Linked DNA regions of Homo sapiens. The protein of the gene in region 1 purifies or fractionates together with the protein of each later gene. This does not show direct contact. Each region holds a gene or a part of one and is shown on either strand. Other genes may lie near its edges. The genes, in order: HMGCLL1 and VPS13C.

Evidence for each region.
Region 2: the proteins of HMGCLL1 (region 1) and VPS13C purify together in Homo sapiens (affinity purification with mass spectrometry; 2 studies listed by BioGRID and IntAct, with this or other methods). This does not show direct contact.

The regions. Positions count from the first base shown.
Region 1 is NC_000006.12:55,436,002-55,443,315, forward strand, and holds part of HMGCLL1 (3-hydroxymethyl-3-methylglutaryl-CoA lyase, cytoplasmic), read right to left. Parts: intron 3,559-7,314; coding exon 3,433-3,558; intron 1-3,432. UniProt on the Homo sapiens protein: Non-mitochondrial 3-hydroxy-3-methylglutaryl-CoA lyase that catalyzes a cation-dependent cleavage of (S)-3-hydroxy-3-methylglutaryl-CoA into acetyl-CoA and acetoacetate, a key step in ketogenesis, the products of which support energy production in nonhepatic animal tissues.
Region 2 is NC_000015.10:61,851,575-61,854,447, forward strand, and holds the end of VPS13C (intermembrane lipid transfer protein VPS13C), read right to left. Parts: 3' UTR 815-2,873; downstream 1-814. UniProt on the Homo sapiens protein: Mediates the transfer of lipids between membranes at organelle contact sites. Necessary for proper mitochondrial function and maintenance of mitochondrial transmembrane potential.

The DNA.
Region 1 (7,314 bases):
GTAGACACACTTGAAAAACATCATAATTCAGGCTGGTATCTAGAGTCTAGGAAGGACAATAATGGAACTAGAAAAGCAGTCAACAAAGCATCAGCGAAGGACAATCAAAATAATGTTTTGGAGCAGTTTATAGATAAGAACTGACTTAGAAAAAAAACTATCCTCTTTACTATATAAAGAAACAAACTTGAAAAAGCCATAAGGATTACAGAAAAGGTGTATGCATATATATACATATATATTTTTTAAACCAAGGCCAGAAATACTATTACTAGTATGATATTGAAGGAGGTAGTTGCAAGTGAAATAAAATGAAGTGGTATTTAGTACACATCTGGAACTTGTTCGCCTGAGAGGTTGTACTGTCTGAAAGTATAAATAGGATCAACAAAAGCTCAGGTAAATCCATGGATGACAGATATGCAGCTGGGTATAAAGGGCAAGTTCAGGACATGCTCTTGGCTTTAGTGTAAGGAAAGGGTCACTATCAAAGTTTCCACCCAGCACTTTTGTTGTCACCGGAGGAGGCAAAGCATTAAGTGGATTAAGCACAAACTTGCCCTTATGTGGCATTTCATAAGCTTCTATGTTCCCCCTCAATATGGACTAGAAACAATGTGGGCTTAAAATTGAAAATATTCAGTTTTCCTTGCTATTATAAAGTACTTTTTAATATCTATGAAAACTTGTCACTTTCATAAAATAGACAAGTATAAAAACTCATAGGGGCTTTTCATAACAATGAATATCATTTTAGAAATTGGAGACATTTCGATATAGCTAATTACTTATCTCTTTAAGAATTAAAAATATTTTGTAAAGTGATACTTGTAAATTATTTTCATGATGTCTTTTTATTACAAAGTTGTTTTCAGGATACTAACATTTGCTTTGGTTTGAGAAAGTTGGTTTTGTCGTGGTAACGGCTTTACGTGGAGTATCTGTTTAACATCCTTAATCCAATGATACTTAAATTCTGTAAACAATTAACTTCAGGTGCCTTTCACTTATAAATTACATCCAGCAAGGGTTGACAGAAAGATTTTTGTCATTAATGTCTTTCTTCTCTTTTCAGTAAGTCCATTTGTCACAATTATACAGTAGAATTTGTTGATATCGCACCAAAGAAGAATTTTGTTTTGGCTTTTCTCTACCATTTTATTTAACCAGTAGATATCATTATGAAACAACACTGCATGTATTCTTAAATCATTTGTCGGGTGCTTAAATATGTCTCGTATACTATGATAGATTCTGGAGTTTCAAGAACCTCACGTAGAATGTGGTTTCTGCCTTCAAGTTCAAGCAAGCAATGTGGACTCACAACAGAAAATTCTGTACCATAGTTAAAGCCACAAATAGAGATATGCCCAGGTTATTACGGAGGCAGAGATATGAGGCCATCAACCCACTGAGGAAAAAAAAATGCAGAAAGGAATGTGTCAGGGAAAAGTGCCAAGAAGGGTAAAGCCTGACCTGAGGTTTATACAAAATGTATAAAAGAGGATGGAGGATATATGGGGCACTGTATGCAGGCAGAGAGAAGAGCAGTCCAAGATATCTTAAATATCCATGGCGTATATGGATAAAGGCAAAATATACCATTAACCCTGGAAAAGGTAATAATAGGCCAGATTATGTGATAGAGCACAGGCTTCCTTTCAGGAAATTAGAATCCACTGATCCTTGCTCAAGCAGACGTAGAGCCTATTCATACTTATATGTTAGGTGTAACCCTTTGATGGTAGCATGGAAGATAGATTTTAAAGGCAAGTCTGGAGCCAGCGACCAGTATATAGGATGAACACCCAGGAAAGAGATGCAGACCTGCATCAATGTAGTCATAGCAGAGGTAGTAAGGGAAGGACAACCAAAATATTTTAAAGTCAGATTAGCAGCTCTTGGTAACTGATTGGACATGGAATCCATAGTGAGATTAAATTCTATAGAGAATCCTGGTTTGTTGCCTTGGGTGACTAGTTGAATTGTGGCAGCTACTCAATGTAGCAACCCTTGGATGTTGAAATTTTTAGGAATAAACTTGATTTATTTGCATTTGGACTCCAGAGTTATGGAACATAACTGGCATATATTAAGCATCAGCTATCAGCTATGGAGTTCGATTCAGTCATCTAAATTTCTAAGAAAGGAGCTATTTACCCTCATTTATGTCATTAGCTTCTGATATAAATGATTAAGATACGATGTAAATGAAATAACATTTATTTCTAACCAGAGAAAATAGGCAATAGCTTTTGGTGTTTATGGGCAACAGCTGTTGGTGTTTAGTGCCAAGTGAAATCAGTCTTTCAATAAATATTTATGGAGCATCTTTATGCCACAGGCACCAAGTATAAAGTATGAATAAGCTGTCATAATTGCTCTGTGGTTGCATGGGAAGATAGACACATAAACAAGATAATTATATAACCTTGTGGTAAGTTCAGAGGAAAACATGAAAACACTAAGGAATGGGACCTAACAGTTTGACCTGGGGGATAGGCAGGGAGATGCCAGACGGCTTATTTTTAGGATGGTGGTGTCTTACTTTCCAGGCCAAATGGAATACGAGGCATAAGGCCATTTCACATGGTAGTGAAAACCTGAGCAAGGAGTAGAAGTGAGGAATAAAATGGTACAGAACTGTAGACTAGAAGCAAGTTTAATGCAGCCGGAGCATTAATGTAAGTAGAATGAGGAAAAAGGAGGAATAGGAGCAGCAGAGAGTAAAAAAATTCATTTTACAATACAGATGATTATTTTACATCTCAGAAATTCTAAATGTCTAATCATCTGTGATTTTTATTTTTTTCCTAAATAAATCGGTTCTATAGACTAACAGGTTGTGTTAACAATCATAGGGCAAAACAAGGTGCTGAATTTGGTGGATGTGGTTACATAGCACGTGACTTTTCCGGTACAACTTGCAAAGAGACTATTCTTGCCATCCAGTGTCTCATATGCTAAGTGTTATGAAGCTCCCCTCTTTCACTGATCATTTAAAAAGTGCCCTGGGAGTTCTTCCAGAAGCTACAGTTGTCACTGAGACAATCAAGATCTCCATTTTCTCCAAGAAAAACATCCATACAAAAAACAAAACTGCAAAACTCAACAATCGTAACAGCAAAGACACAGGCTCCAACTCACAAAGTGTATAAAATCAAATCAGATAATACATGAAAAAGTTCTTTAGAGGTCATGAAGCACTATAAAAATGTGAAATGGTAGCATTATTGGTGATTGAGCTATAGCAATGAGTTACTTTATAAAGACCCCAAAAGAATTTTTATTGCATTTTCCCACTGTGCATTTTAGCAAATAGCAAAAGTGTAGTAAAACTTTGACCTCAAAATTGCTTCCCACATCTTAGAAGCTTTGCAATTTGGAGCTGCAAGGAATGCATGAATATTAAAATACGTTAAAGTAACTTACTGTATTGAGCCCCAGGCCATTAAGCATATATATCAAATCCTCAGTGGCTACATTCCCAGAAGCACCTTTTGCATAAGGGCAGCCACCTAATCCGGATACTGCGGAGTCCACCACATTAATTCCCATCTGGAAAACAAACCAAACCACCTAAAGCTTGTGTGTTTATGGCATGTAAATTGTTGCATTTCTATTTAACCTATGGTAAACTGCAAATAAGCAAAATCTGAACTGGTTATTCAAATATATTCACTTACCCAGTGGCCTCTAGAATGGTCCCCAGGGTGCTTATTTCTTTTATGTCTAATCTCGTCTTTGAGGCTAACAGAAATTCTGCTAAGGCTCTCTGGAGCTAGAATAATCTTTGATCAAAAGTAAAATGGTGTTGTTCGTTGGTAACAGCTCAACTGTAGGTGGTGAAGCTTAGAGTAAGGTTAATTTACTCCAGATTTTCACATATTATCCAATTCTCTAACTTTATTCTAAAAGCATTTTATAAGCAACATGAAATATTTTCAACATTCTACTTCAACATCAAAATGCCTTAGATGACTGGTATGTGAGGGCAGGGGAGAGAGAAGTCACTGGGTTTGAAATAGGGTTTTGTGGGCTCACTTTACCCATTCAACTCACCAAATCTTTATTGAGACATTCATTGTTTTGCACACAAAACTCCACTACTTTGGGAGAAGGAAGAAATATTTAAGAGACAAAACACTTGCCACCAGCAGTAACGCCAGCTTACATTATTGGTTCCTCACTAAGTGCTGGATGCTGTTATTAACAAATTATGTGTATTAATTCACAATTCTCCCCAAAATCCATGAAGTAGATACTCTTGTATCATCCCCAGTTCTCAGAAAGAAAACTCAGGTACAGAGGGAATAAACAATTTACCCAAGGTCACTATCTGGTAGGTGAAATCTTCTGTCTCCAGGGAATCTACACTCTGCTTTGATTTATAGCCTCTGGAAACATGAGATTTGGTACATGATTATGCACTTGGGGATATCAGAGGTGGAAGAGCTCTCTGTGTACCGGAGAAGTTATGGAAGACATGAGTACAACAGGGTCTGAGAAGGGCCCCGGAGTTCAAATGTTAATAATATGAGAAGAACAGAGGCAGGCATGCCATTCCTCTGTGAAAGGTAACAATTCGGTAATCAGAAGATACAGTAAAGCCTAATCCGATTCTTCACTCTTGGGCATTAAAGAAAAAGTAACATGATCACATTTAAAATGAGAAGCACCTGGAAGCAGAGCTCTTTCCAACCAACTATATCATGTTTCTCAATCACAGGTTACTGCTACATTCCCTGAGTTTTTGACTCAGAAGGTCTGGGCTGCGACTTGAGAATTTTAAATTTTGACAAGATTCTGACAGCTGCTGCTCATGTGGGAATCTCTTTCTCCCTTCCTTCCTGCCTTCCTTCCCTTCTTTACTTTTTTGATAAACTTTTAATTTTAAAATAGTTTTTGATTTTCACAAAATTTGTGAAGATAAAACAGAATTCCTATATATTGCACACTCAGTTTTCTCTATGGTTAACATCTGTTACAGAAAACATTATTCAATGATACTTATTAAAGCACAGCAAGGATGAATTTATTTAGGAACATTGCAGTAGGTACAGGGACCACATGCAATGCAGGAGAGAGAGACTGTGCTGAAATCCAAATACAGCATGGGCAAGTGAGAATTTATAGCCAAGGAGTGGGGTGGGGGTCAGTGGATTAAAAATTACTAGGAGAAAACATCAGGAGTGAAAGGAATTCTGGCTAAACTGACCTACCAGGATTTTTGCAGAAGACAGGATAGGGTGATCAGACATGACCTTCGGGTTGGTAGAGGAGGAGAGACCTAATCAGATCGGGCATTTGGATATTGACTATAGGGGTTCTTGTTAAGCTAATTTAGTAGGAATTGCTAAAACTGGATTTTACAAGGAAATGAAGAGGTGGGCTTAGGAGAAGTTTTAGAAATCTGACTGAAGTTTGGCTTCTTTGTCAGATCTTATTATGGTATATTTGTCATAACTAAAGAACACATGTTGGCAAGTTTTTATTAAAATCCATGCAATATTTAGATTTCTTTAGACTTTTAAAATGACATTTCTAAAGACATTTTTAAACTGGTGTCTTTTATCTGTTCTGGGAGCTCACCAGTATACCACATTAGTAGTCAGGTATCCTTAGCCTCCTATGGGCTGTGACAGTTTCTCCGAACTATTTTGAGTAGTATAAGTCATGTTTTTGTTTTGTTTTATTTTGTTTTTTTGAGATGGAGTCTTGCTCGGTTAGCCAGGCTGGAGTGCAGTGGTGTTATCTCGGCCCACTGCAACCTCTGCTTCCTGGGTTCAAGCGATTCTCTTGCCTCAGCCTCCTGAGTAGCTGGGATTATAGGTGCGCACAATCACACCTGGCTAATTTTTGTGTTTTTAGTAGAGACAGGGTTTCACTATGTTGGCCAGGCTGGCCTCAAACTCCTAACCTCAAGTGATCCCCCCTCCTCAGCCTCCCAAAGTGCTCGTCATGTATTTTGTACATTGTCCTTCAACTTGGGTTTGTCTAAGTTTTTCTCCTGTTAAGACTGGAGTTATAGAGTTTTGGGAGAAGACCACAGAGGTAAAGTGTCATCCTGAAAGCATTATATCAAGGATATATAATATCAATATAAATTATGACGGCTGGTATTAACTTTTCTTGTCTGGCTGAGGTGGTGTCTGCCAGGTATCTGCACTATAAAGTCTCCCCACAGTCTTTCTGTATTGTACGTTTTGGAAAAATGTCACTATGCGTAGCTCACACTTAAAGAATGGGGAGTATCTACACAAAAATTTTGAATTCTTCTGTATGGAAAATTTGTCCATTCTCATTTATTTACTTATTCTAACATGTATTTATATTAGGGAGGACTCATAGCTAATTATAGGTAATTATTTTGCACTTTGGGTTATAACGTAATACCAATTTATGTCTTTTGTTGCTCAAACTGTTCAACATTTGGCCATTGGGAGCTCTCTCACTTGGCTCCTGTGTCCTTTAGGCATGCCAAAGGGACTGTGGGTTTTCAACCACTTGCCTAGAGTTTCCTTTGCAAGACTGAAAAGGATACTTACAAAATCTCACAAAGGAAGAACTACAGTCCTTAAAAAGCCTTAGAATTCTTTGGGACCTAAGGAAAGTTTACAAAGGATAGACTGTTTCTCTACCTCCATTTCTTCTTCTTATACTCTCCAACATGAGAAGGTCTCTATTGCTTTCTTTCCATTACCACAACATTTCTCACATAATGATCTGACAAGCTTAGTCATATTCAGCAGTAAAATACTGGTACCTTTAGGACAATTTTCATTTACTATGAATCAAAGCAGTAAGAATGGGGAATTATACTTTAGAAGTGAAATTTGTGGCATTGTTCAGTACTTGGAAAAGACAAATATTAAGATGTTGACCCGTCTCTGGGAGTCTGCCATGATATAAACAGGCAGGGGCATTTCTTTACTTATAGGTTAAAACTGATCTATTCAGTGGATCTGAATGTATCAGTTTAGGAGTCAGAAATTTCCATTATTCTCAATCCTGTCAACCCATTGGAATCACCTGGAGCCCTTTTCAAATGACTAATGTCTAAGCTTCTCCCTAAATTAATCAAACCAGAATCATCTCTGTCCTAGAATCTCCTCTTATCCAGTGATTCTCAAATCCCTAAAGTAGAGTTTCTTATCTATCTCACCCTTTATCAATCCGGGGTATGGGTCAGCTTTAACTTTAGAGAAACTTTGTACCCTGGGGCAGCAAACAGTTAACCAGGACTGGTCAGCATTTCAAGAAAAGCAGGTTTTGAAAAAATACCCAAAAAAGTATAAAGTAGCAAAAGTCAGA
Region 2 (2,873 bases), on another chromosome or scaffold:
CATTAGAAACACACACAGAACTTCGTTAAAAACAGATATCCAGGCAGCACCAGATCAACATACTTAGAAACTCAAAGCACCAAAAAGATGATAGTGTCCTCCTTCATGCATAATTCAAAATAAAAACAATACTAAATCATAAAACACATGGAAGTAAGTCCACCCTGGATGGCATTTTTCTTACGAAGCTTGGGTACAGTCTTCTTCCTTTTTTTTTTTTTTCCTTTTTTAATGCCCCTGCTTTGCTACAGCCCTCAGCATGAACTTATTCTTCCTACCAGATAATCCAGCACTGGGTGAGCCTTCCAAACTGGTAGTCTGAGCCCCATGTGGAAGAGGGAGGAGAAGAGAAAGACAGCGGTATGGTAGAACATCCCAGACTGCCATGCAGTCTAAGAAAGGTTCTGCAAGGCCACTGAAGAGTCTTCAAGCCAAAGTCGGCTGTCAGAGGAGTTCTGTGTCTCCTAGAATTTCCAGACTAAGTATGTCTTAGTATAACTTCATACTCAGCCAGTCGCTGAGAGAAACCACGGAAGGCATGGGCTCAATGCAAATACAGCAATGGATTTCAAAGTGCAGCTGGGCCCCTAGGTCAACCGCATTCTCTGTAATCCCCCAGTATTGGAGGTCTCTGCCACAGATCTCTAGTGTGATAAAGGGGCTCAGTACCCCTGAGAAAAAGCTTTTCTGACTAGTATCTTGTAAAGTCCTCCATAACTATCAATATAACTTCTCACTATTTTGGGATTGGAAGAGGAAAAGGGAAAGACAAAAAGTAAAGCAAATGTTACTTGAATAACACAAACCCACAAAGTTTTCACACCTGTAAACAATGTGCCAAATGTTTTATTTCTCTCATATGCAAGTAATTACCTCTCAAAGCATTTTTAAAAAACGCATTATTACACTTTACCAATGAATTATTTCTGTCCCTGGAGATTAAATCAAATCAAAATGTTACAAATAGTATCAGTATGATATAATTTCTTAAATATATGGGACATTGTCAACAGCTGTGATTCATATGAAAAATATAATCAGATATCTCAAATTCCTAATTCTGTTTTAAAAACACAAAACACTAGAACAGTTGCTATGAAATTACTGATAATGATCCCTTTAATAAACTGCAATTAACCACTAATATAGAAATTCAATTTAAGCAAGAAGTTTTATATATTATACTTTACAGAAAAAAATAATTTTGAAAAAGTAATGACAAACAGAGATCAAACATTTAGGGCATTAGTTACTGCATTCTCTTTTTAGAATATACATTAAGTAACACTAGTAAAATTTAAAGTTTTATGACCAGGCCTTAAAAAACATGAATGATGATGACAGAACCACTATCACACATAAACAAAAATAGAGCAAACCAAGCGTGTCCACATCTCCATGAATTCAGTGATTTGAAATAAATGTTGTTATGTTAAACATTATGAGCAAATCTAAAGGTTCAACCAAAAAACTTACATATTTTTGAGTATTTTTTAAAGTTTTAATAGTTTATCTCTGATCAAGGATGGAGAAAGGACAAAAAAAAATACTGTCCTGAATTGATTCTCACAGGGCCTGCTCCCTCACAGAACACAGTGTCATTATATATGCCTTATTTATATATAAAACAACCAAAGAATTTTCATTCTTCTTAGTAAGTATTTAAAATACATTCTAGGCGTGCATTAGGAGTAAATGTTAATTTGTGATGCCCTTAAAAGACTTTCAACCTGTAAGAAACAATTTCTGGGAATATAAAAATATTGAATTTTACATATTTCAGAGTCTTGAGAAACTTAAAGTGCAGTATTTTCATGTATCAGCAAATAATAATTGTGTCATATAAGCTCATCTTGAAAGAGGATGTAAATACTTCCAAATTTTTATGAATGCTACATTACAGAGGGCAGAGTGTAGCTATTTTAAGGTTTGATTGTCCAGATTTTTTTATTAGACTGCAAGGAGGAAAAATAAGCACCAAAGTAAAATATGCTTTATTAGGGGGAAAAACAGTGTTTTCATGAAAAGAAAATAGAAAACATGTCATTTCTCCCTTTAGTGACCTTTCTTCATTCAATTACCTGGTTTACCAAGAATGTTAACTCAGTTCAATTATTGAACAAATCACTCTTAAACAAAATGTCAGGATCCAACATTTGTTCATGGGTTAAAGCCTTTTGGCGGGCCGTGGTGGCTCATGCCTGTAATCCCAGCACTTTGGGAGGCTGAGGCATGCGGATCACAAGGTCAGGAGTTCGAGACTAGACTGACCAACATGGTGAAACTCATCTCTACTAAAAATACAAAAAAAAAAAAAATTACCCAGGCGTGGTGGCACACACCTGTAATCCCAGCTACTCAGGAGGCTGAGGCAGTAGAACAGCTTGAACCCGAGAGGCAGAGATTGCAGTGAGCCAAGATCGCACCACTGCATTCCAGCCTGGGCGACAGAGCAAGACTCGGTCTCAAAAAAAAAAAAAACCCCAAAAAAACAAAAATAAAAAAACCTTTCAAAGAACACTAGTCATTCTAAGCTCATTTCTTATTCTTCAGTAAGGCTTTAATTAAATATAAGCCTATTGACCTTTGCTTCACAATTTTAATATTAATGAAAATTTCATTCTGAGTTTGAAGTGACGTTTCTTCAAGGGTCTGACCCATTTGGGTGGTGGCGTAGAAGTGGACTGCTAGCATATACATGGTTACAAAATTAGAGTAAAAACTAAAAGGTGAAAAAACTAGAAAACCCAATACTAGCTATTCCAGAAAACTAAAACTAAAGGATTGCTTGAAAAATTGTCTTTAGCAAGATAAAGCAGAGTGACTTATAGACAAGACCAGTGATTGTTTTTTCTCCCTGTTGGAGCCCCTGA